Linked DNA regions of Homo sapiens. The protein of the gene in region 1 interacts with the protein of each later gene in a pairwise test. Each region holds a gene or a part of one and is shown in the gene's direction. Other genes may lie near its edges.

Region 1 (5,206 bases):
CACCCTGGTCAGCCGCGGGAGGGCAGGCCCGGGGGGCCCTCAGCCTGGAACGTGGGAAGAGAGCCAGAGGGAAGGGGGGCAAAGAGGTCTTGGTGGGGGTCCCCAGGGAAGGGTCATGATCAGAAGGGTCTGGGGCTCAGTTAAGGGTGTCTGTGTCAGCAGAATAACCCTAACCTCACAGAATGGCCCACTTCTCTCTTCTAGGCCACATTCGTGGCTGACTGGCGGAACTCGAATCGCTACCCTGCTGTTATTCTCTTCTACGTCAATGCGTGCTTCTTTGTGGGCAGCATTGGCTGGCTGGCCCAGTTCATGGATGGTGCCCGCCGAGAGATCGTCTGCCGTGCAGATGGCACCATGAGGCTTGGGGAGCCCACGTAGGTGTCTTGGGGACCCAGAGGTGAAGGTACAGGGAGGAAGGCTGAAGTGTGCGTTTACCCCAAAGGGAGCAGGTGCGTGTAAAACCGAGATCCAGGGCAGGATCTGGCTCTGCCCTACTGCATACTGCATGCAAGATCTCCAGTGTTAGGATCTTAGTTTCAGAATCAGGACCTTCATGGTTTGTATCTGCTCAAAGGGGCGGCTCCTAGAGCCTCCTCAGATCTGACCTGGGTCCTGTCTCCAAGCCCTGACTTCTGGGAACCTCCAGACCTCAGCAGCTGAGGGTCTGGGCACAGGGTGGGGAGACCAGGTAGAGGGAGTACAGAGTGACCGCCTCAAGTGACACCTCACCTCTCTGCACAGCTCCAATGAGACTCTGTCCTGCGTCATCATCTTTGTCATCGTGTACTACGCCCTGATGGCTGGTGTGGTTTGGTTTGTGGTCCTCACCTATGCCTGGCACACTTCCTTCAAAGCCCTGGGCACCACCTACCAGCCTCTCTCGGGCAAGACCTCCTACTTCCACCTGCTCACCTGGTCACTCCCCTTTGTCCTCACTGTGGCAATCCTTGCTGTGGCGCAGGTATAGTGACTGGTAGGAACGGGAGACCTGGATGGGGTGAGTTTGAGGGAGGGGGCCAGTAACCCACCTTCTGTCCCACCCCTTCCTGCTGCAGGTGGATGGGGACTCTGTGAGTGGGATTTGTTTTGTGGGCTACAAGAACTACCGATACCGTGCGGGCTTCGTGCTGGCCCCAATCGGCCTGGTGCTCATCGTGGGAGGCTACTTCCTCATCCGAGGTGAGTGAAGACCAGGCCAGGACCAGTTGGGCAACAAAATATACTGGGCACTTGCTGCCAGTACTGGGAGCTGCCAGCACGGCTGCCCCCATGCTGAAACCCCAGCTAGCTCCTATAGGGCCTTCACACAGTAGAAGGTGACCCTCTAGGCAGACGAAACACCGTGAGCACTTGCTGCGGGACAGCACCTTTGTACTGGCCAGAAAAATCCATCCCTCTCTCCAGGGCCTTGGCCCAGGGCTCACAGCTTGTTTTTTTTGTTTGTTTTTGTTTTTGAGACAGAGTCTAGCTCTGTTGCCCAGGCTGGAGTGCAGTGGCACAATCTTGGCTCACTGCAACCTTCGCCTCCTGGGTTCAAGTGATTCTCCTGCCTCACCCTCCCCCATAGCTAAAATTACAGGCATGCACCACCACGTCTGGCTAATTTTTGTATTTTTAGTAGAGACGGGGTTTCACCATGTTAGCCAGGCTGGTCTTGAACTCCTGACCTAAAGTGATCCACCACCTCAGCCTCCCAAAGTGCGGAGATTACAGGCATGAGCCACAGTGCCCAGCCTCACAGCTTGTTAGGTGGAGTTGGGTCAGGATCCAGCCCCAGTCAGCTCCTGGCCGGTGCACTTGTGTGATGAACACCCTGAGTAACCTACTCTGCCCACTTGGACCAACCTAGGTCGTTTGGTTATCTGTGTGCACATTAATTCGATATGTACTGTCAATCTTCTGGAGCTTGGTTTTCATCTTCTTTCTGTCCCCGGCACACACAGCTCTCACAGCATGCGTGGAATTAGTGGTCCCTAACTTTCCTGTCTCATGCTGCCATCCCATAGTAAGCCTCAGCATCTATTTAGCTCATTGTTGTTGGGTTTTCTTTGTAAACCTCAGTTTCCTCACCCTGAACTGCCAGCCTTCTGTTCAGTCACCTCTTTCCCCTCTTTTTGGCATAGTGTCTGGCCCTCTGATTTGTGCTTCGTTATCATGCTGTCCTAGTATGGTAATCACTAGCCACATGTGTTGAACTAGTCCAGCCTGGGTGCGGCGGCTCACTCCTGTAATCCCAGTACTTTGGGAGGCTGAGACGGACGGATCACTTGAGCTCAGAGTTCGAGACCAGCCTGAACAACATAGTGAAACCCCATCTCTACAAAAAATACAAAAGTTGCCTGGGCAGGGTGGCACATGCCTGTGGTCCTAGCTATGTGAGAGGCTGAGGTGGGAGGCTTGCTTGAGCCCAGGAGGTTGAGGCTGCAGTGAGCCATGATCTTGCCACTGCACTCCAGCCTGAGTGACAGAGTGAGACCCTGTCTCCAAAGAAAACAAGACAACAACAAAAAGAAACAAGTCCAAATTGAGATGTGTTGTAAAATGTGAAATACACACTGTATTAAAAAAAAAACTTAGTGGGAAAAAAATGTAAAATATCTCATTAATAATTTGTTACATGGATTACATGTTGAAATGATTTTATTTTGAATATATTAGGTTTGTAAAATATATTGATATTAGTTTTGCTTGTTTCTTTTAACTTTTTTTAAGTGGCCACTAGAAATTTGCCATATGTATGTGGCTCACATATTTCTATGGGAAGGCCGGCATGGTGGCTCACACCTGTAATCCCAGCACTTTGGGAGGCCGAGGTGGGCAGATCACCTGAGTTCAGGAGTTCAAGACCATCCTGGCCAACATGGTGAAACCCCATCTTTACAAAAATACAAAAATTAGCCGGCGTGATGGTAGGTGCCTGTGATCCCAGCTGCTTGGGAGGCTGAGGCAGGAGAATTGCTTGAACCTGGGAGGCGGAGTTTACAATGAGCCGAGATCACGCCATTGCACTCCAGCCTGGGCGACAGGGTTCCATCTCAAAAAAAAAATTATATGGATAGCGCTGTTCTTGAGTCTGTTTTATGTCTTTCCCATCAGAACAGCTTTGATCTGCCCCCTTCTTCAGGGGCAGCTGGGCCACGACCGAGGCTCCCTCTTCTCAAGTGTCTGTCTAGGCTCTGCCCTGGTCTTCTCACCATTTCTCCAGTGTCTCTAGCTCCCCAGGTTTTCATTTAGCACAGGGGTAATCAGACTTGGGACTCCAGAGCCTTAGGACCCTCCTCCCACTCACCCATCCTTCCCAGCAGGGCAGCCTCACCCCTGCTAATGTCTGAGGTCCCCCTTCTGTTCAGGAGTCATGACTCTGTTCTCCATCAAGAGCAACCACCCCGGGCTGCTGAGTGAGAAGGCTGCCAGCAAGATCAACGAGACCATGCTGCGCCTGGGTGAGTGGCCCCGGGGGACTTCGGTCTGAGGTCCTGGCCAGCCCAACACTGCACCCTCCTGGGGCTATGCGACCGGCAGGATGCAGTAAGTCAGTGGGACAAGTTAGCCATAGGGACAAGGACAAGGGGTGTGTGTAGGTGGTAGTGGTAGTGGCAGCTCAAAAGAAGGGGGTCTACTCGGGGGGAAGAATTCAGTCAAGTTCATGCCGGGACTGGTTCCTCCTGCCCACTACGTCCCACGTGGTCCCTCCCACAGTTGCTTCAAGTGCCCTTCTTATTTTATTTTAGAGAAAGCAGTTCTTGGACTGAGCCCAGCATGAGTTCACCCCAGCCCCAGCTGGGTGAACTTTGAGGCCCAGTGGGGCAGACTCTCTCCTCCCCACTGCTGCTGCGGGACTGGGCTTGGTAACGTCCTGTCCTGCCCCTGTCCTCCACAGGCATTTTTGGCTTCCTGGCCTTTGGCTTTGTGCTCATTACCTTCAGCTGCCACTTCTACGACTTCTTCAACCAGGCTGAGTGGGAGCGCAGCTTCCGGGACTATGTGCTGTGAGTGAGGGGCATGGAGGCGGCAGTGCTGGGAGCTGGAGCCAAGGCCATAAAGACACCCACCTCCACCCACCGGGCAGCAGGGATTTGCCAGGTCCCTGCTGCAGACAGCAGATTCAATGGATGGTGTCTGGGTGCATAAGGCATCAGTCTCCGTAGTTTCTCAAACGTGGCAAACAACCTTCGCATCCCTTCTCACCTCTGCCCTTCCCTCTCCACCCCCTTGGTTGCCCAGCTGGTGCATGTGTGACTGTTAAGCAGCCAGTTCAGCTTCGTCTTCTCTGACTGACACTAAGTTGCCCTCTAATTCTGTGTGCTCTCCTGCAGAGCCTGCTTTAGATCCTGGCACAGGACTAGTTACCTCTCTGTGATAGGTTAATGACCTGCTAATGTTGGCTAGTTTTTGCCTGTGCTTTTTTGTGTCATAATGAGGATGGATTGGAGAGAGTAAGACATTGCTACTGCTGAGAGAAGCGCAGTACCCACTGTTACAAGGACAGTCGCTAAAATGGATGCTAGTCCAAGCCCTGACTGCTTCAGGCTCTTCCGTAAAGGTTCCGGCTTCCAGTCTGGGATGCTTTAAACCACAGTGATGCCTGAGTCTCTGCCCCAGAGATTCAATTTAATTGTCTAGGGTGGGTCCCAGGCATCAGTAGCTATTAAAAGCTCCCCAGTTGATTCTAATGAGCACCCAGGGTTGAGATCAGTGCTGTGGAGCTTAGCCCTTTCTAAAGTTTTTGGATTGATTGTCTGAGTCTACCCAGTAGACTCAGAAAACCCCACCTGTAGTCCCAGCTACTTGGGAGGCTGAAGCAGGAGATTGCCTGAGCCCAGGAGTTGGAAGCTGCAGTGGGTTGTGATCACGCCACCGCACTCTAGCCTGGGTGACAGAGCAAGATCCTATCTCAAAAAAAGAGAGAGGAAAAGAAAGGAAAGCCTCACCTGTCTACGTTCCCTCACTGTAGATGTCAGGCCAATGTGACCATCGGGCTGCCCACCAAGCAGCCCATCCCTGACTGTGAGATCAAGAATCGCCCGAGCCTTCTGGTGGAGAAGATCAACCTGTTTGCCATGTTTGGAACTGGCATCGCCATGAGCACCTGGGTCTGGACCAAGGCCACGCTGCTCATCTGGAGGCGTACCTGGTGCAGGTGGGCATGGCAGCCAGCCCCTCCTGCCCTGCCCGCCTCACCCTCAGCCTTGGGACCCCATCT
Region 2 (4,740 bases), on another chromosome or scaffold:
TCTTTTTATCATTTTCTTAAACAGGCTGCTTGGGTAGACGTTGACTTGAAAGGTCCATTCTTTTGTCATCTTGCTGGTTCCCTTAACAAGACAACACCTTGGCTAGCAAGATAATATCTTGGTTAGCAAGACAATAAACTTGGGCATGTGCTCAACAGCAACCTGTCTAATACATTTTCATTTAAAATCCCCTCTGTACTACTCAGAAATATAAGCAAGTTATTATGGTGCCCAGAAAGGGGGCAAAGGTTCCAGGGTCCTAGGAGATGACAAGGATTTATCCTCTTCATCTTTCTCCGATCCCAGTTAGCAGGAATACTTTAGCCTGGAAGGTGAGTGTGCCCCTAACCAACCTTTACAGATGGGTGACTGTTTGGGAGCTTATGGCTCACTCCTTCTCTTTAAAGCAGATGCATTCTGGCAAGCTGCAGCAGCAAACCTACCCTTTTAGACACCCTGCGTTTTCTCATCTTTCCTTTCTACCCCTGCATCTCCCAGTCTCTCTCACTTAACCTCCGTGGAAACTCATGCTGCGTCTCTAATACTTTGGAAGATGAAGAACAAACGCCCTGGAGAGTGACTGACACCATGTGACCTCTTGCTTCTGTAGCACACTGCATCTTGCCTGTGAATCTTTTTTTTTTTTTCTTTTTTTTTTGAGACCGGGTCTTGCTCTGTCACCCAGGCTGGAGTGCAGTGGCACAATCTTGGCTCACTGCAACCTCCGCCTCCCAGGCTCAAGTGATTCTCCTGCCTCAGCTTCCCAAGTAGTTGGGACTATAGGCATATGCCACCACACCCAGCTAATTTTTGTATTTTTAGTAGAAATGGGTTTCACCATGTTGGCCAGGCTGGTCTTGAACTCCTGACCTCAAGTGATCCACCTGCCTCCACCTCCCAAAGTGCTGGGATTACAGGCGTGAGCCACCACGCCCAGCATTTGCCTGTGCATTTTTTATTGTATTTTAATTATATCCTTTATTCTCTCCTTCCTAAGCTTGGTGTTCTTAACTTTCTTCCAGATCTTCCCTCCAACCCCCAAACACGATCTCTCCTTAAGTAAGAGGCAGGGAGGGAGAGGGGAACCTTCTGATTTCGGGGTGGGATTGAGGCTAAAACCCAAGTTAGAACTACCTCCCAGAAACCCAGTTCCGTATCCATCGAGTGATCAAAAAGATGCTGCTAAAATGTGCCTTGTGTTTGCTAGGGATGAGGTGAAAATGAGTATTGAATGAGGTGGCATTTTGGTCCATGGATTTGCTTGCTATGAAAGAGAAAAAACATGGAAAAATATATTTTGAGAGCTGGGTGAGACCCCCAAATTAATCTAATCCAAGATGTTTCCCTAGTCATTACATTCCTTTTTTTTTGAAACAGAATCTCACTCTATTGCCCAGGCTGGAGTGCAGTGGCGCAATCTCGGCTCACTGCAACCTCTGCCTCCCGGGTTCAAGCAATTCTCCTGCCTCAGCATCCTTAGTAGCTGGGATTACAGGCACGCACCACCACCCATGGCTAATTTTGTATTTTTAGTAGAGATAGGGTTTCACCATGTTGGCCAGGCTGGTCTCGAACTTCTGACCACCTTGGCCTCCCAAAGTTCTGGGATTACAGGCGTGAGCCACCACGCCCTGCCTGAGTCACTAAATTCTTACACTGTTCCCTCCTATGTTAGTCCGCTAGGGCTGCCGAAACAAGGTACCACAGGCTGAGTGACTTAAACAACAAAAATTAATTTTCTTTGACTTCTGGAGGATAGAAGTCCAAGATCAAGATGTCGGCAGGTTTGGTTTCTTCTGAGGCCTCTCCTTGGCTTGCAGATGGCCACCTCCCACTACATCCTTAGATGTGTTCCTCTATGTTGTCTGTATCCTAATCTCCTCTTCCTATAAGTACACCAGTAATATTGAATTAGGGCCCACCCATAATACCCTATTTTGCTTTTTATTTCACTATTAGTTTTTTTTTTAAAGCTATTTTTGCCAGTTAATTTAAACATCATGATCTTCTTCTAATGATAAAAATGCAAGTCTTCATGCTAACAAAAGGATTGGAAGAAGGATGAAGCAGATGTTTCTTCTCCCCTACAGCAATCTGGTTAAATGAGGAGTTAAATTGAGAGCTTTCATGAGAATTTCAGTCCAGTTCTGTGCAATGAAGACGAGTGATTCAAAACTTTCACTAACTTGCTCTGTTGTTTGTAATATAATGTTATTGGAAGAGTTATTTTAACAAAGGGGAACTGTTATATTTCTAAAACTTTTAAAATTGTTGCCATGTCTTGGGAAAATAACTTCAGTATCTGTCTTGATAATTTCTTGCCCTGATGATACCATTGAAAGTCATTTCTCTATGTTTCCAAAAGTTGTACAATTACTAGTAAGATTTATCTGCCAGTTAATAATTTTTCTTTTCTTCCACATGCATGAAGGAGTATTTGTAATGACTTTTATATTTTATCATTAACATTATTTTTTTGAACTCTTAAAATGCGTATTTTTTTTTTACATTAATAGACTTCCTTTTTTCAGAGCAATTTTTGGTTTACAGAAAATTGAGCAGAAGATACAGAGTTCCCACATACTTCCTTTCCCCCACCTCAGTTTCTCCTAAGTTATTAACAACTTACACTGGTGTGGTACATTTGTTACAAATGATGAACTAATATTGATAGCTTATTATTAACTAAAATATATAGTTTACATCAGGGTTCACTCACTGTATGAAGTTCTGTGGGTTTTGTCAAGTGCATAACATCTACCATTTTATAATATATGCCATTACAGTAGCATACAAAAGAGTTTCATTTACCTAAAAATCTCTTCTGCGCCACCTCAAATAATTTCTTCTGAGTTAAAACCACTGTGTGGTGAGAGCTCCTTCCTTTTCCAACCTCCTTGTCCTTTATGGAAATGGTAAGAGCTTTTACCCATCTCTCTGGTCCCTTTTCATTATGTGTGTATCTGTCTCCCACATTTGTAAGGTCTCTAGAGAGTCAGTGACCTGGTCTCCTAATCAGCTTCCTAAAGGTGAGTTTCAAGAATTAAATCCGTATTTATATACTCAGATACAGCATCCAGGCAGTGGCCTATTTTTCCTGATTTTATTTTGTCACCTGCTGTATTTTGGCCTTTGACATGTGGAGATCATGGCCCCCCTACTTCGGATGGACTTCAATGGATCTAACTCGAAGAAGACTGAACCCAGGAAAAGAGACTGTGTGAGCATTCTCACACCAGGAAATGGGCTGAGAAACAATTTTGGAGTGAGATGGAAGGAGAATGGTATGGAGTATCTATTCTTAGGGAAATGTGTGCTAGGCCAAAATCTCACTTTTTGGTTAAACACTCTCATTCTCTGATAACATAAAGGCCTCTAAAAATATATGCAGAATATTTGGGGTAACCTTATTATTCATTGCCCAAGTTAGGTCACCTTTCAAAGTAAAAGGGAACATTATGAATAATTATACTAGGGCAACAGGTATAAATCAAGTCACCCTACCATTAGACCAAGTGATTTTCACTGGTTCCTTCATTGTAAGAGTAACTCCTTTTGTTTCCTAAAAATTGTTAAAATGATTCCTTAATGTTGCATTTGAAATAAAGGGAAAAAGACAAAAATTAGCAATAAATTCATGTAATGTCTAGGCAAGGATTTCTTCAGAAGAGAGCAGGTCAGGTGTAGTTAGATCAGTAGAACTGTATGTCTCAGTGGCACCATTACCTTTTTTTTTTTTTTTTTTGAAGCAGAGTCTCACTCTGTCCCCCAGGCTGGAGTGCAGTGGCACAATCTCGGCTCACTGCAACCTCCGCCTCCCAGGTTCAAGCAATTCTCAGGTGGATCACCTGATGTCAGGAGTTCGAGACTAGCCTGGCCAACACGGTGAAACCCTGTCTCTAGTAAAAATACAAAAATTGGCTGGGTATGGTGGCGTGCGCCTGTAATCCCAGCTACCCAGGAGGCTGAGGCAGGAGAATTGCTTGAACCCGGGAGGCAGAGGTTGCAGTGAGCCGAGATCGCACCACTGCACTCCAGCCTGGGTGACAGAACGAGACTCTGAGACTCTATCTCAAAAAAAAAAAAAAAAAAAAAAAAAAACTGGAGCAATTTGGAGACAAGATTAAAAAAATAATAATAACATTGTAGAATGGTGGCCACTCACAAGGTTACAGAATTTCCCAGTAAATGTTTTCAAGGGTGGGGCAGAAGGTATGATAGACAAAAGCTTTAAAAAAGTCACACAGTGCCCATGAATGCCAGCCCTAGGCCTAAGTCCTAATTACTCAAACTCAAACTATTTTCCATTTCCTACCTGTGTGGCTCTCAATCTGTGCTCTGGGCTACCCACATTTTTTAGTACTTTTATTAATTCTTGAGCAGACACATACAATTTTTCTGTGTAAGACATAGGTAATACTCCAGCCATGTGCTTCCCCTACAGTTTAAAGAAGAGAATGCAACCTCCCCCATCTCTGGACTAACCTCCATGCCTTCTCCAACTACATCCCTTTCCCAACTCCCAAGAGATGACCACTGTCCAATTTTTATTTATCCCTTTTTTTTTAAGTTTTACTATATGTTTGTGGCCTCAACATGTCATAGTTTTACATGTGTAAATGGATCTATAGTGTACATATTCTTCTGCAACTTGCTATTTTTCTTCGGCATTATATTCTTGAGATTCATCCTCGTTTTTGAACCTACCTGTAATCTATTTGTTTCTGCTGCTGAATGGTA
Region 3 (4,139 bases), on another chromosome or scaffold:
TGGGTGCCATGGCTGGTGAGCTCGGAGAAGAGGGAAGCAGAGAAACGGGTGAAGGAGGGAGCGTCCTAGGGAGAAGTGGGTGGGGGAGAGGGTGTTGGGGGAGAAGAGGGTGGGGGAGAGGGGGCCCCGGGAGAGGGAGGGATGGAGGAGCGGGGAGCTCCAGCCAGAGAAGAGGAAAGAGAAAGGAGAGAGCTAGGAACTGGGAAGGAAAAGAGCTAGGAGGAGACCATGAGACAGAAAGAGAAGAGGGTGAAGAGAGAGGATAGTGGCTGGGAGGAGAGAGGAGGAGGGAGGAGCACAGAGGGAGAGGAGAGGAAACAGCCAGAGAATCTGCTAGAAGGGAGAGAGGAGAGAGAAGAGCCGGACAGGGAGAGCAGAAGTGAGAAAAAGGAGGGTGGCCACAGAGAGGACAGCGAGAAAAAGAGAACAGGAAGAGGGGAAAAGAGAAGAAATGGGAGAGGGAAGAAGGGTGGGAGAGAAAACGGAACAGAGAGGGGGCACAGACAGCGGACTGGACCGAGAGGGAGATGGAGCGGTGCGGAGGGGGAGAGAGAAAGAGGGAGGGAAGGAGGGTAGGAGAGGGCTGGAGATAGGGGAAAAGAGAAAAGGAGGGTAGGAGAGGGCTGGAGAGAGAAGGGAAGTTAAGAAGGGAAGGAGAGAGACAGACATTAGGGAAGAAGGAAAGGAGAAAGGAAAAAATACAAAAAAGGGCAGAGAGAAAAGAACAGGCCGGGCATGGTGCCTCGCACCTGTGGTCCCAGCACTTTGAGAGGCTAAGGCAGGAGGATCACTGGAGCCTGGGAGGTGGAGGCTGCACTACTGCACTCCAGCGGGTGAGTGAGCGAGAAAAAAAGCAGAAAGGAAAGAAGAGGTGCATGAGTGTGGAAGAGCAATATGGAGAGAAAGAAGGGAGAGAGGATTGGAAGTAGCGACAGAGGACCATGCCCCTCCAGCTGAGGAGGGGGCGCCCCTAAGACAGCGTCAGCCCAGAGACCGGGGCAGGAAGCAGGAACGTGAAGCAGGTTAGGAGCCAGTGTGAGGCACGGAGAGGGCCGGGTAGCTGGGCGGCGGGGGTGTCGTGGGCACAGCCCAGGCTACTGCGGGGACAGGCTGCCAGACCCGGCGGGTCCAGGTTGGGAACTCGGCCATGCAGCAGAAACGTTCCCTGCCTCAACAGGGCGCAGCCACCCCGGGGCCATCTCTGTGACCCAGGGAGAGAAAGGACAACGAATGGGACTAGACGAGGATGGGGAGGAACAGAGCAGCTGTGGAAGGTGCGGCAGAGAAGGGCCCAGGAGAAAGGAGGAAGGGAAGGAGCTGGAGGGGCGGGAGAACAGGAGACAGAACAGGACAGAGACAGCTGCCCGGGAGGATGGGAGAACAGAAAGAGGGAGGAAACGCCGAGCACTGACCTGGGGGAGGGGAGTAAAGAGAAGTGAAGGGGGATTGGAAGGGAACTGGAGAATGAGAGAAGCAACAGGCGGGGTGCGTGTAGGAGGGCGGGAGAGCCAATGACAAGACAGAAAAGGCAGAGAAAGCAAAGCAAGACCAGACTCCTCATCCGGTAACACTGTGTCAGGTCATTGCCCTCCCACCCCGCCCCCAACCCCATAACTGAAAACAAGTAGGAACCTGGATAAAATAGTCTTAACAATTTTTTTTTTGAGACGGAGTCTTGCTGTGTTGCCCAAGCTAGAGTGCAGTGGCGCGATCTCGGCTCACTGCAAACTCCGCCTCCCGGGTTTAAGCGATTCTCCTGCCTCAGCCTCCCAAGTAGCTGGGATTACAGGGGCCCGCCATCGTGCCTGCTAATTTTTGTATTTTTTAGTAGAGACGGGGTTTCACCATTTTGGCTAGGCTGGTCTCGAATTCCTGACCTCATGATCCGCCCACCTTGGCCTCCCAAAGTGCTGGGATTACAGGCGTTGAGCCACCGTGGCCGGCCCTTAAAAGCATCAAACTACATACAAGACCGTAAGGAAGCTGTGGGTCAACGCGGAGGGACGTGGGAACCCATCCCGGTGAAGCGGCAGCGTCACGTCCTTTCTCCCAGGGATCTGTTGGTCGGAGACATCTGGACTTTCATGTGGACAGCCTGAGTGACAGGGGGACCCAGGGGCCTCACCTGGGCTACCTGGGGTGGGTGGACCCTCCACTGTGCCAAGGTGCAGCCTGGGCTCGGAGGAACATGCCCTCCGCCTAGTCCCTGACATCCTTTTCACATCCAACACGCAGAGCAGGGGCGTGAGGGAGCAGGCAAGCAGGGAAGGGAAAGACAATGAGCAAGAGCCAGCGGGACGGTGGGGCGGATGGCAGAGGCTTCGCTGCTGGAAAATCAGACGCAGAGTACGAAACGCCTGTGCTCACTATGTTAATAATAATAATAAAAGGCAAAAAACCAGGCTCATTGATACACTGATATTAACAAGAACAAAGTACTGAGAGAGAGAGAGAGAGGTGAGGAGGAAGGCAGAAGAGGGAAGGCTGGCTTTCCTGCCGTCCACTTTGTGACCTCCTGCGTGATGGCGCGTCCTTCCAAGTCATGGGGTAACGTCCTTGTGGCCCAGATAATGAGCTGCAGACGGACGGGAATGTGCAACTGTGGAGACACGCGAGCTTATGGTCCCAGGACCTGGCAGGACATGAAATGAGTTTCTTAAAGGGTGAAACAGATTGCAGGACCAATCGTCCCGATCGTCCAAGGCAGGATAAAAATATCCCAGCATGCGGAGGAGCCCTCCCTGCCCAGTCTCCTCCGAGGGGCCTCGGGGCCTCTGCAGCTGCAGCTGTTGGAGTCATCAAGAAGACGGGGACGCGGGAGGGGGACAGGGACCAGGAGGCGAGGGGATGGCGGGAGTCGGGGGTGGGGTTGGGCGGGGTGGGGAGAAGGCTGTCAGCGCCAGGCTCAGACGAGCCGGTGGGAGCAGAGACGAGGAGAGGGAAGGGTCAAGGACAATGACTGGCAGAGGAACTGGAAAGGAAGGAGCGGGCATGGAGAGGCGGAGCTGGGAAGGACTTGGGGGACTAGAGGCGAGGGGAGAGAGCTTGTGGGGTGAGGGAGAAAACGGAGAGGAAAGAGCGAGTGAAGGTGAGGATGGAAAGGAAACAGGAAAGCCCCATGGAGGGGAGGATGGGAGAAATAGAGTGTGTCAGAGACAGAGAGGGAGAGAGAGATGGCGAGAGATGGAGAGAGAAAGAGACAGCGAGAGAGACAGAGACGTTGAGAGAAACAGAGATAGCGAGAAAGAGTGAGAGAAAGAGACAGGGAGACAGCAAGAGAGACAGTGAGAGAGACAGTAAGAGGGAGACCGAGAGAGAGAGTGAGAGACAGACAGCGAGAGAGAGACAGTAAAAGAGAGATAGCCAGAGAGAGACAGACAATGAGACAGAAAGCGAGAGACAGAGAGAGACAGTGAGAGAAACAGACAAAATGATGGCGAGAGAGTGAGAAAGAAAGAGACAGCGAGAGAAACAGAGACAATGATGGCAAGAGAGTGAGAGAGACAGAGCGAGAGAGACAGAGACGGACTGAGAAAATGAGACAGAGACAGCGAGAGATGGGAGAGACAGGGAGAGAGAGAGAGAGAGAGAGAGAGAGAGAGAGAGAGAGAGAAGCGCCAAAGAGAAGCCACCAGGAGCGTGTGGAGGGGAAGCCAGGTGGAACTCACTGAAGGTGCAGGGAGAGGAAGGGGAGGCAGGAGTGAGAGGAAAGAGGAGAGGCAAATCCAAGGGACAGAAACTGGAGGCAAAGGAGGCAGAGGAGGGAGGGAGACCAAGGGCACAGGCCCTAACCACAGTGCTGCCCCTTGTCCCCGGCCCCCTTGTCTCCTTCTGACACAGTCGGTTGCTGTGGACGGGCACAGTGAGACTGGGGCCCCATCAGCGCCTCCTCTGGGGGTTGGGTACAGACGATGAGGAAATGACAGGGCGGGGATGAGGAGGAGGACCTAGCGCAGGGGAAGGAGAGGGCAGAAGACAGTGGGGGGTGGCAGTCTGGAGGACAAGGGAGAAGATTCCAGAAAGGCTGAGAGCCACAAGGTGGACAATCAGGAAAAGGTGGGGCTGGGTGGAAGCGTGTGGAGGACTGGAATATCGCCCAAGGGAGGAGCAGTGTGTGCAAGACCTAGAGAGGAGGAAAC
Region 4 (5,206 bases), on another chromosome or scaffold:
CACATGTTGAATTTGAGGTTCTTGTTGGCGGTCAAGGCAGAGAAGTCCAGACTGGAGGTGGAAGTACAGGCCTAGTTCTTTAGGACCTACTCTGGGCTGGAGCATCAGTTGCGGCCGGGCCCTTGTGGTAGTAGGAGCTTTGGGTTGAACATAAGTTTTCAGCAGGAGTGCGTGGAGTGAAAAGAGAGATGGGGTTGGATTTTTGGTCAACTCCAACTTTAAGAGATTCAGAGGATGTGATTCCTGAAAAAAGAGGAAAAAAAAGACCAAAAAGAATCAAACAGAAAGATGGTTGTGAACGTTGAGAAACTGGTATCAGAACAGAAGGAAGAGGTCTGCAGTACCTAGCTTTGACAGGCCTCATGGAGGAGGGGGTACTGCCGATGGTCAGGCACAGAGGAGAGGAGCAAAGCCTGCTGGGAAAAGATCATCTGAATGAAATAGTATGTGGTATTTGCTTTCCATCCACACATGGGCATTTTCCATTAAAGAGTGGAAATGTAAAAAGATATGTTAAAATTGACAGTGTTTCTTTGTCCCTTAACATGTGTATACTTTCAGATGTTTTTTAAAAAGCACTTTGGCACCTTCCTATTAAAGAGTCTCTCTAAATCTTCTCTCAAGTAAAAGGAAGCAATCAAAAATGTTCATTGGCTTAATTAATTAGTTTAATACTAATTATGAGTATTATGGACTTTTTTCAGAAGAAAATTTGGATAAGATAGTCTCCTATGCTTTTGATTTCTACCTTTATCAAAGAACATTGCTAAAATGAGTAGATACCTGAGTCAGTCAGCATTTATTTGGCTACCTCCTTTTGCCAAGCACTTTACATAGATTATCTCATTTAATTCCCATAAGCTCAATAAGGTGGCACCATTATTTCCATTTTACAGGTGAGAAATCAGGTTCAGAGGATTAGCTTCTACCCAAAGTCATAAGACCAGATGGTGGCAGAGTTAAGATTTGACTCATGTTTGTGACTCAGAGCTCAAGATTTTGTAACAACCTTGATACTCTGTTTCTCACTCAGCAGCACAACAAGGGCAAATACGTTCCTACTCCCGCAGAGACTAGTGTCCAATAGATACAGGGAATACATATTTTATTCAGTGCACACTAGTTGGGAATTGTTTCCTACAAAGACATGAAAACAATCTTCAAATACTTGCAGTACTGTGGTTTGGGGAGGCAAAATGATCAAAGGTATATATTACAGGGAGGCAGTTCTGGATATAATTTAAAGAAGGAGGGCTTTCAACATTTAGAAGCTGTTGGAATTAAATGACTTGCCTTGGGAGGTAGTGAGTTTTCCTTCACTGGAGTTATGTGGACCAACTGGCTGCCCTCTGGTGACAAATACAGAGGGAATTCATCCATTGGATAGGGGTTAGGTACTGGAATTACTTGAGACCTTTGTATACTTTATGATTTCAAGGTGGCAGACATGGGTCATTGTCTTAATCAGTTTGGGCTACTATAAGAAATATATTTTAGACTGGGTGGCTTAAACAACAAACATTTAGTTTCCACAGTTCTGAAGACTGGGAAGTCCAAAATTGTGGTGCAGTCAGATCTGGTGTCTGGTGAGAGCCAGCTTCCTGGTTTGCAGGCCTGCTTTCTGCTCTCACATTGGAGAACAGAGGGAGAGAAACACAGAGAGAGTGTGTGCTCTACTTTCTCTCTTCTTATAAGGGCACTCATCCCATCGTGGAGACCCCACCCTCATGACCTCATCTGAACCTAATTATCTCCCAAAGGTCCACCTCCTGATAGCATCTCACGGTGAGAGGGATGGAGCCGGGAAGGTTTCAACATGTGAATTTGAAAGGGACACACATAATGCAGTCTGTAACGGGTCAAATGTAACCTCAATAAAATGAGTAAATTGCTACATTTGCTTGAATTTGGGACCTTTTTTTCTTTCTTTTTTATTTTAGTAAATGTTTTTATTGATAAATGATTCACATACCATAAAATTAACATTCTTAAAGTGTAAGATTTCATGGTTTTTAGTATATTCAGAAGGTTATGCAGCCATCACTACTATCTAATTCCAGAAAATTTACTCATCCGCCAAAGAAACTCTGGACCTATTAGAAGTCACTCCCCATTTCCCCAAACCCTCTAGTGCCTGACAACCTCTACTGTGGGAACTTTAACTTTTGGCTTTATTTTTCACAGCTCTCGTGGCATTATCCTTCAGTGGGGCTATTGGACTGACTTTTCTTATGCTGGGATGTGCCTTAGAGGATTATGGGTAAGTTATCATTTCAAAAAGAACTATTCCTCTTTCTGTGTCTTTGTCACTATTAGTATGGGTGTTAGAGAGTTCGGTCAATTTAGCACCAAGTTCTAACCAGTGAGTTAGTGGAGCCCAGTTTATGAACACAGTCCCTTTGTGGGTCAGGTGTACTTTTGCAGAGGGCTCTGTTAAAAATTGATGTATTCATTCCATAAGCATTTGTTTAACACCTACTCTGGACTAGCTGGGGACACACAAATGAAGAGAGAGTCCTGTCCTCAAAGAGGAGGTAAAGTTCTAGTTGTGAGTGAGAGACAGGCAAACGGTCTAGTCAGTAATCTGGCAGCTGCAGTGGAGATGCCAGCACAGTACGCTGGAGCTCGGATAAAGTGCACCTGAGTTTCAGTGGGACAGTCAGGGAAGGCTGCATGGCAGAGGTTGTATCTGAGCCAAGACTAGGTGGATGAATAAGAGTTTTTCAGGGTGATGAGTCAGGGGAGGACATTCCAGGCAGAGGGAACATTCTACACATTTTTTCATTCAACCATTGTTGGTTGAATGCTTCCCATGTGCCAGCTACTGTTATGGGAACTAGGGATTAAGACATAAGAAAACAAAGGTCCTGCTCTCTCAGAGTTTGTGTTTCAGTGGGGGAGACGGACAGTAAACAACAAAAGTATGCATACTGTCAGAGGTAGAAATGGTACAAAAGATGAAGAGCACAGAAGCTGGGAAGACAGTGGTCAGGGAGGGCCTCTCAGAGGAGGTAAAAAGTGAGAAGAAATGTCAAGAAAATCAGCAAGCAGGCCATACAGATCTCTAGGGAAAAAGCACTTTAGGCACCAGGAAAGCTGAATGCTAAGGCCCGGAGACATGAAAGTGTATATAGCCTTTTCAGGAAACCACACATGGTACATTATGGTACAGCATAAATTGTAGTGGAGTGGCAAAAGAAGGGTTAGTCAAGAGTGTAAAAGTCAGCACTTAGGGCTCTATATGCCTGCCGTGTAGAGGAGGTTCCATTTTATACATCAGACAATAGAACCTGGGAAAATATCTTGAGAATGGGTTTGGAGGAGGGGGTTATGTTAAAATGTCATTCTTGCCATAACGTGAGACTAGATAGGAAAGAGCTGAGACTGCAGTCAGGGAGAATAGTAGGGGACTACTATCATAAATCAAGCAAAATTGAGGGCTGGGGCAGTAGGAATGGAAAGAAAAGGAGAGTGAGTTAGGAAACCAAACCAACCAACAGGTTTTGTTCATCGATGTCAGGATTCAACAAGGAGGGAGAGTTCTTAGATGTCTCCCAGGTGATTGGCTTGAACAACTAGATAGAAGATGATGTGATTAGGCCAGGCACCATGGCTCACGCCTGTAATCCCAGCACTTTGGGAGGCTGAGGCGGGCAGATCACGAGGTCAAGAGATCGAGACCATCCTAGGCAACATGGTGAAACCCCATCTCTACTAAAAATACAAAAAATTAGCTGGGCGTGGTGGCACACGCCTGTATTCCCAGCTACTTAGGAGGCTGAGGCAGGAGAATTGCTTGAACACAGGAGGTGGAGGTTGTAGTGAGCCAAGATCGTGCCACTGCACTCTAGCCTGGCGACAGAGCAAGACTTTGTCTCCAAAAAAAAAAAAAAGATGATGATGATGTGGTTAAGACCTATTGAAGTGAGTTATTATGACAGTGATGAATTCAAATCCATCACCGCAGTCCTGGCCAACTATTACAGAAATTGTTTAAACCCAAGAGGGATCCAGATATAAGCGGTCACTTATATTTGTTTAGAGCCTTCACAGCAATTACTTTATTCTAGCTTTTGGAATGTAATACGGTATTATTATCCTCATTTCTCGCTGGGAAACCAAAGCCCAGGGTAGTTAAAGACTTACCCAGATTGAACAGCAGTAAGTGACAGAGCCCGGCCGTGGTGGCTCATGCCTATAATCCCAGCACTTTGGGAGGCAACGGTAGGAGGATTGCTTGAAGCCAGGAGTTTGAGACCAGTCTGGGCAACAAAGTGAGACCCCATTCTACAAAAAACTAAAATAAGCCAGGCATGGTGCCTGTAGCAGGGTTGGGAGGCTGAGGTGGGAAGATTGGTTGAGCCCAGGGGTTGGAGGCTGCAGTGAGCTGTGATCACACCACTGCAGTCCAGCCTGGGCGACAGAGTGAGACTTTGTCTCTTAAATAAAAAAGTAGAAAAAAAATTAAAATGGCAGACATGGAAATGGAGCTCATGTTCTGACGCCCTTGACCAAACGTTTTTCCACTATTCCACAACCAACTGTAAATCTAGGAGTTTTAATTCTCTGTGATACACTGTCTTTGTAAGGTAAGAAAATGACTCATTACTGCTACTACAAATAAGTTTGTTTTCTATCTTTATTTTAATTTTTTGTTTTTTAGAGATGCCACAACACCCAGCTGATTTTTTTTAGAAGTTTTTGTAGAGACCGAGTCTCTCTGTGTTGCTCAGGCTGGTCTTGAACTCCTGGCCTCAAGTCATCCTCCTGCCTTGGCCTCCCAAAGCTGTATCTTGATAGTGAACCAGGATTATCATCTATATTGGAAGTCAGCAAACTGCCACATATAACCTGCTACCTGTTTTTGTAATAAAGGTTTTATTGAAATACAGCCATGCTCATTTGTTTATGAATTATCTTTGGCTGCTTTTGCATTGCTCTGCCAATTATCTTTGGCAGAGTTGAGTAGTTGAGATAGTCTTTATGGCTTGCAGATCCTCGTTATTTACTCTTTGGCCCTTTATAGAAAAAGTTGGCCCACCCCTGGCCTATGTATTTATTGAATTGTATATATTTAATATTTACATTTTATATATAAACAAGGTTTCTTGTACATTAATATTTCTCTTAGTTGGATATCGGTGGCTTACTATGAATGAAAACATAGAGTCAGATTGTTTTTCACAAAACTGTCACTGTATTCCAG

Evidence for each region.
Region 2: the proteins of SMO (region 1) and HMGN4 interact in a two-hybrid assay, tested with the Homo sapiens proteins (one large-scale study listed by BioGRID and IntAct).
Region 3: the proteins of SMO (region 1) and EMC10 interact in a two-hybrid assay, tested with the Homo sapiens proteins (one large-scale study listed by BioGRID and IntAct).
Region 4: the proteins of SMO (region 1) and LEPROT interact in a two-hybrid assay, tested with the Homo sapiens proteins (one large-scale study listed by BioGRID and IntAct).

The regions. Positions count from the first base shown.
Region 1 is NC_000007.14:129,205,406-129,210,611, forward strand, and holds part of SMO (protein smoothened precursor), read left to right. Parts: coding exon 1-7; intron 8-204; coding exon 205-377; intron 378-744; coding exon 745-964; intron 965-1,058; coding exon 1,059-1,182; intron 1,183-3,353; coding exon 3,354-3,446; intron 3,447-3,883; coding exon 3,884-3,992; intron 3,993-4,957; coding exon 4,958-5,143; intron 5,144-5,206. UniProt on the Homo sapiens protein: G protein-coupled receptor which associates with the patched protein (PTCH) to transduce hedgehog protein signaling. Binding of sonic hedgehog (SHH) to its receptor patched prevents inhibition of smoothened (SMO) by patched.
Region 2 is NC_000006.12:26,539,695-26,544,434, forward strand, and holds part of HMGN4 (high mobility group nucleosome-binding domain-containing protein 4), read left to right. Parts: intron 1-4,740.
Region 3 is NC_000019.10:50,488,469-50,492,607, forward strand, and holds the end of EMC10 (ER membrane protein complex subunit 10 isoform 2 precursor), read left to right. Parts: 3' UTR 1-2,403; downstream 2,404-4,139. UniProt on the Homo sapiens protein: Part of the endoplasmic reticulum membrane protein complex (EMC) that enables the energy-independent insertion into endoplasmic reticulum membranes of newly synthesized membrane proteins.
Region 4 is NC_000001.11:65,423,119-65,428,324, forward strand, and holds part of LEPROT (leptin receptor gene-related protein), read left to right. Parts: intron 1-2,184; coding exon 2,185-2,260; intron 2,261-4,663; coding exon of another isoform or gene 4,664-4,685; exon of another isoform or gene 4,686-4,891; intron 4,892-5,206. UniProt on the Homo sapiens protein: Negatively regulates leptin receptor (LEPR) cell surface expression, and thus decreases response to leptin. Negatively regulates growth hormone (GH) receptor cell surface expression in liver.